Homo sapiens: one gene and its partner. The protein of the gene in region 1 purifies or fractionates together with the protein of each later gene. This does not show direct contact. Each region holds a gene or a part of one and is shown in the gene's direction. Other genes may lie near its edges.

Evidence for each region.
Region 2: the proteins of ABCB1 (region 1) and LAPTM4B purify together in Homo sapiens (co-immunoprecipitation; one study listed by IntAct). This does not show direct contact.

Annotation. Positions count from the first base shown.
Region 1 is NC_000007.14:87,548,885-87,552,384, reverse strand, and holds part of ABCB1 (ATP-dependent translocase ABCB1), read left to right. Parts: intron 1-1,546; coding exon 1,547-1,660; intron 1,661-1,806; coding exon 1,807-1,917; intron 1,918-2,088; coding exon 2,089-2,214; intron 2,215-2,330; coding exon 2,331-2,534; intron 2,535-2,866; coding exon 2,867-3,037; intron 3,038-3,500. UniProt on the Homo sapiens protein: Translocates drugs and phospholipids across the membrane. Catalyzes the flop of phospholipids from the cytoplasmic to the exoplasmic leaflet of the apical membrane.
Region 2 is NC_000008.11:97,803,288-97,806,787, forward strand, and holds part of LAPTM4B (lysosomal-associated transmembrane protein 4B), read left to right. Parts: intron 1-2,065; coding exon 2,066-2,177; intron 2,178-3,500. UniProt on the Homo sapiens protein: Required for optimal lysosomal function. Blocks EGF-stimulated EGFR intraluminal sorting and degradation.

The DNA of each region.
Region 1 (3,500 bases):
AGGAATGAACCCTAACTTTCAGCGTGTTTTGAGGACTAACTGAGATAATGAATATAGAATCACTTAGCAAAGTTCCTTCTGTGTAAATTATTGAGCAATATAATTCCATGTGATTTAGAAAAAATGAATAATGACATTAATTCTCATCAACCCCAAAGAGAAACACAGTTAAGTCTTTACCAATAAGAAACTGATTTGCACAAAACAAAAAAACAAAAGGCCTAAAGAGAACACGGCCTTGTGGCAAAAAAGACAACCTGATAAAGGATCAGTGTCTTAGGTGTGTGTGCTTTATAATTAACAAAAAATGTTCATATACACTGTTTTATCATGATACAACATCTCTATGATTGCTGGGTAGGGAGAACAGATAGAATCTTGCCTGTTTTTGCCAATGAAGAAATTGAAGCCAAAGATTCTAAGAGAATGGCCTAACAACATATAACTAGTTATTACTAATTTAGGATTCAGAACTGGGTCTTCTGACTCCTCTGCTAGCATTTATTTCCACTTTACCTTACTGATGATCTAAATAAAAAAAAAACTAGACATTGAAGAAATATAAAAATATCCTATTATAATATTCTAGCCCTGTGAAATTTAAATCATTGTTTATTGAGCAAGTAAGACTAATTCTGCATTCTAAATTGAAAAGTATTTATATTTCCAAAATATTTTTAGTATGGGCAACATAGTGAGATCTCATCTCTATAATTTTTTTTTTTAATTAGCCAGATATGGTGGCACTTGTCTGTAGTCCCAGCTACTTCGGAGACTGAGGTGAGAGGGTTGTCTGAACCCAGAGGTTGAAGTTGCAGTGAGCCAAGATTGCACCACTGCAGTCCAGGCTGGGCAACAAAGCAAGACCTTGTCTTAAAATTTTTTTAAAAAAATTTTATGCTATTTTTAATTGACAAATCATAATTGCATTACACTTACGGAATACAATGTGATGTTTATGTATACACACACATACACACAAAATGTGGAGTGATCAGAGCAAGCTAATTAACATATCTATCTCCTCACTTGACACCTTTTGAGGTGACACATTTGAAATTTACTCTTGGCTGGGTGTGGTGGCCCATGCCTGTGATCCCAGCACTTTTGCAGGCTGAGGCAGGAGGATTGCTTGAGGCCAGGAGACCAGGCTGGGACACGTAGCGAGACCCTGTCTCTAGAAAAAATAAAAAAAATTAGTCAGGTGTGATGGTGCATGCTTGTAGTCCTAGCTACTTGGGAGACTGAGGCAGGAGGATTGCTTGAGCCCAGGAGGTAGAGGTTATGACGAGCTATGATTGCACCACTGCACTCCATCCTGGGTGACAGAATGAGAACCTGTCTCTTAAAAAGGAAAAAAAATGAAAAAAGGAATTAAATGTACTGTTAGTTACAAACTTTTAAAATATTTTTAACACCTAGTATTTATATGTTGCCTCGCCATTTTAAATTTTAATTACCTATGTTAGAAAAAGACAGAAGAAGTATGAAAAAAAATTGCTGTCACTATCTCAGTAGCCTGATGGTTTTTCTTCACATTCCTCAGGTATTCTTTTCTGTATTAATTGGGGCTTTTAGTGTTGGACAGGCATCTCCAAGCATTGAAGCATTTGCAAATGCAAGAGGAGCAGCTTATGAAATCTTCAAGATAATTGATAATGTAAGTCTGAGTTGGCCATCTATCCACCTATCTAAAAGATTGTCCAGTTAAGTCAATTTCTTTGTCACTTTATCCAGCTCTCCACAAAATATCACTAAAAGTAGTTATTGTAACCTAGTAATCTCTTAAAATTTGATTCTGTTTAGAAGCCAAGTATTGACAGCTATTCGAAGAGTGGGCACAAACCAGATAATATTAAGGGAAATTTGGAATTCAGAAATGTTCACTTCAGTTACCCATCTCGAAAAGAAGTTAAGGTACAGTGATAAATGATTAATCAACAATTAATCTATTGAATGAAGAGTTTCTGATGTTTTCTTGTAGAGATTATAAAAAAGTGCATGTATATTTAAACCTAGTGAACAGTCAGTTCCTATATCCTGTGTCTGTGAATTGCCTTGAAGTTTTTTTCTCACTCGTCCTGGTAGATCTTGAAGGGTCTGAACCTGAAGGTGCAGAGTGGGCAGACGGTGGCCCTGGTTGGAAACAGTGGCTGTGGGAAGAGCACAACAGTCCAGCTGATGCAGAGGCTCTATGACCCCACAGAGGGGATGGTGAGATGACCCATGCGAGCTAGACCCTGCGGTGATCAGCAGTCACATTGCACATCTTTCTGATGTTGCCCTTTCAATTACAAATGTATGAAAGTCACACTTACTTTTTATTCCAGGTCAGTGTTGATGGACAGGATATTAGGACCATAAATGTAAGGTTTCTACGGGAAATCATTGGTGTGGTGAGTCAGGAACCTGTATTGTTTGCCACCACGATAGCTGAAAACATTCGCTATGGCCGTGAAAATGTCACCATGGATGAGATTGAGAAAGCTGTCAAGGAAGCCAATGCCTATGACTTTATCATGAAACTGCCTCATGTAAGTTGTCCTTGCCCTTTGCCTTTCTAGAGGTGCAAAAAATAAAATGCAGGCCTACTATGCAGGAAGTTAGGAAACTACTATAAATCGGAAGAAGGGAAATCCTAAGAAGGGAAAGTAAGATTACTTCAGATTTGAAAGCTCTAGCAGTATCAACTGGTCGTAGATACATTTTTAAAAACTGAGGTTGGTTATTGTGTTAAATAAGATTTAAAGAACTGGACCTGTATTACTTGTGAGACTTGGGCTGTGTATAGGATTCCTTACCAATTTAAAATATGAGCTGAGATAGCTTGTCCTTATGCTAAATCATTCTGGGTTTTCTGTGGTAGAAATTTGACACCCTGGTTGGAGAGAGAGGGGCCCAGTTGAGTGGTGGGCAGAAGCAGAGGATCGCCATTGCACGTGCCCTGGTTCGCAACCCCAAGATCCTCCTGCTGGATGAGGCCACGTCAGCCTTGGACACAGAAAGCGAAGCAGTGGTTCAGGTGGCTCTGGATAAGGTCAGTGAGGCTTAGTTCAAACCAACCTGATTTATAAGCATAAGAACATTCTACTACTAATTCTTGTTAATATTGGTCTTAGAAAAGGAAATTTCTGATAGCTTCTAGGTGATTCCTTCAGCTATTAAAATAAAAGCATTGGGCCTCTTTGAAATCTTTTTCTATTTGTTTGTTTTATTGTTCAATTTCTATTTATTTCTCTGATCTTATTTTAAATGTTGATGAATACATTTTCATTTGAAGACACTTGCTAATCTTTTAAATTAAAAAATAGAAATATAGACACATGTGAAAGTTCATCTTCATTGTGATCTTCAAAACTTGACTATGTGGATAACCCTGTTATTTAGGTTTTGAGAGTTTGTAATATTGCCAAGAAGAGAAAAATACAACCTGAAGGTCCATATATAATTTTCCAGGTGTTGAATGCCACTTGAAGACTCTATGCGAAATAAGAAACCTC
Region 2 (3,500 bases), on another chromosome or scaffold:
TCTTCCCCTGAGACAGGGTCTCACTCTTTCACCCAGGCTGGAGGGCAGTGGCACGATCTCAGCTCACTGGAACCTCTGCCTCCCTGGTTGAAGTGATTCTCCTGCCTCAGCCTCCTGAATAGCTGGGATTACAGGCATCCACCACCATGCCCAACTAATTTGCATTTTAAGAAATAGGGTTTCACCATGTTGGCCAGGCTGGTCTCGAACTCCTAATCTCAAGTAATCCACCCACCTTGGCTTCCCAAAGTGGTGGGATTACAGGTGTGAGCCACCGTGCCGGGCCAAAAATAAACTCTTGAATGGATGTTCTGTAAAACATTTACACTTCCTTTAAACAGGTATTTCCAAGTATGTGGATTTTTGTTTATTTGGTTTTGAGGGAAGGTCTTACTATGTTGCTCAGGTTGGAGTGCAGTGGCGCATCAGCTCACTGTAGCCTCAAACTCCTGGGCTCAGGCGATCCTCCCACCTCAGCCTCCTGAGTAGCTGGGACTACAGGCATGCACCACTGTGCCTGGCTCATTTTCTTGTTTGTTGAGATGGGGTCTCACTGTGTTGCCCAGGCTTGTCTTGAACTCCTGGGCTCAACTGATCTTCCCACCTCAGCCTCCCAAAGTGCTGGGATTACAGACATGAGCCACTGTGTTCAACCCAAATATGATTTTTGTGGTAGGATATGCCATTAGTTAGTGTTGTTAGTAAGAGGCTTTTCTCTGTGTATCTTCACTCCATTTGAGAAGAGTAAAACATAGAACTGTGCCATAAGTTTCTGAACTTAGAATAGTAAAGAAGTAACAAGCCAGTCTTGGCCTGGCCCAGTGATGCGCACCTGTAGGCCCAGCTACTTGGAAGGCAGAGGTGGGAGGATTGCTTGAGCCCAGGAGTTTGAGGCCAGCCTGGGCAATATAGACACCTTGTCTCTCAGCAGACAACAACCCAGTCTTAGCTGGTGCCTCACTTAAACTCTGCAATCCTTGCTACCCCAGCCCCATCAAAGTTAATATGTGTGTGTATTGTCCAGCAGTGACAGGAAGAATAAAGGAAATAGAAATGAAGAGGTAGAATGATCAGGATTTTGCAGTTGGTTGAGTGTGCAGGATAAAGATGGTAAACTCAGATGATCAAGTTTCGTATATGGACAGGAGACTTGTAGAGGTTAGGTTTTGGAACCTAAATTCCTGGATTCAAATCCCATCTCTACAGCTTGGTAGTTGTTTGTTCCTGGGCAGTGTTTTTTAACCTCTGAGCCTCAGTTTGCTATGTATAACATGGGAATAATTTAGTACCCACTTCGTTAGGTTATTGCAGGGCTTAAGAGAGATTCCACATAAAGCACTTAGCATAGTGCCTGAATGTTTTTCATTAATTATTAATAGCGAGGCCATTTTTTAAATTAGAGAACAAATAAGGAGGGCAGAAGTGGGAGATGTTAAAGAAGGTGATTGTCATTTAGAGGAGCTGAGTTTAAAGTAGCCAAGGGCAGTACTCAGAAGACAGGACTACTGGCCTGGCCTGGCCTGGCCTGGCCTGGAAAGGGTTATTGCAGAAGGATGATCCTGGATCCACTATGTAGCTTTGCATTCATTCTCTGAAACTGCTTCCTAGATGGCTTCAAAGCTCTCAAAGCTCCACTAGTTTGAACCTGTAAAATGTTTGATTAACTGAGACAACTTGGGTTGCTTACCTTTAGCTCTAGAGTGTAGCTGACTCACTGGAAAGTTTTTGTGCTTTTTCAACCACTGGCGCCAGGGCTGATGCCTGTGTTTGTGTGTGTTGTTCACTGCTCTATGGTGCCTGGGCCAGGGGGAATGAGGTAAAATCCTGCTGTTGTCTTCACTCCAAGCCTTGTGCACTTGGCTGCAACTGAATGGGCTGGCAGCATTTCTGCCTTGGGAATGTTTATCTGCTCCCTCCATGGGTGGGGCTTAGTGTTGAGAGTCAAGCCACTGAAGAAGTTGCCTGTGGCCAGCCTGACTCCATGTGGTCAGTGTAATTTTCTATTATAAGGATTGCATCCTGGGGTTACTTAAATTCTTTTTTTTTTTTTTTTTTCTTGTTGCAGATCATCAATGCTGTGGTACTGTTGATTTTATTGAGTGCCCTGGCTGATCCGGATCAGTATAACTTTTCAAGTTCTGAACTGGGAGGTGACTTTGAGTTCATGGATGATGCCAGTAAGTAGTAGATATTTGGGTATTTTCAAGGGCAGGGAATCTGACTGCCAGCACTTCCTATTAAATTACAAATATAGACTCGTGAGTTCATTTGAGCTGATATATAACTTGTCATTGCAAATCAACGAATATTTGTGTGCGTCTAACATTCTGTCTTCTAGGTGCAAGAGTCTAAATAAGATCTATTTTCATCTTATGTTAACTTACCCACTTAAAAATGATTGCATTATCATAGACTTTCTACCCTGGGCCTTTTGGCCTTTTTTGAGAGGAAGGGGTATAAATGCCAGGAAGGAAGGTGAAAAGGCTTGTGCTTATCTCCTTGTGTCTTCTATTATGTTTCAGTATTTATTTTTATTCTAGGAGTGATCCTTTTCCATTCTAGAAATGATGTTGCAGATTATTTGGGGGAATTTAGGGCCTTTTCCCAGTGAATGGAAATATGTACAGGGATGTGGATGTGGGGTAAGCAGGGAGGAAGCTAGGCTCCCAGCTTGAAGATCACTGCAGCCTCATCATTTTATAATCATTATGCCGAGTCCATGCCAAAGGAGAGGAGTAGTGCTGTGCATAATCTCCAGCAGAAGATAGTACAGATTTATTTCTCATTGGCTTCGGAGAACTTCAAGTGAGTTTTTCTTAAAAAGTGTTGGAGCAAAGTAAGAGAGGAGAGAGTGGCTCAACATGCAGTTTTAGAGATCGGAAGCATTCGAAAGACATGGTGAGGGCTCTTTGTTTCTCCAAGTAAGAAAAAGCTGTTCAGTGGTTTTAACTAAATGCATGAACTGATATATGCATTTAAGATCCCTTTTGCTGCTGAGTAGGGTACTGGGTGTGTGAGCACAGAGCCTGGGAGAGTGGTATTGGGGATACCACCTAGGCTGCACTGGGGATAGAGAACAGGGAAGGATTTGGCAACTTGCTGTTTTGGGCAGCGAAGGAGACGGAGGAATCAAAGATGACTTCTGCTTTCCAGTTTTAGGAGATGACCTGCATCTTAACTGAGCTGAGAAAGTCCGGAGTCAGGAGGTGGGAACAGACCTGGGGGAGAAAAATAGACTTTAATTTCAGTAACTAGCTGAGCACAGTTGTTTGGAATTGATATGGTTTGGCTGTGTCCCCACCCAAATCTCGAATTGTATCTCCTAGAATTCCCCTGTATTGTGGGAGGGACCCAGGGGGAGGTAATTGAATTGTGGGAGCTGCTCTTTCCCTTGCTATTCTTGTGATAGTGAGTAAGTCTCATGAGATTGAGGCCGAGGCTGGCAGATCAGCTGAGGCCAGGAGTTCGAGACCAGCCTGGCCAAGGTGACAATACCTCAT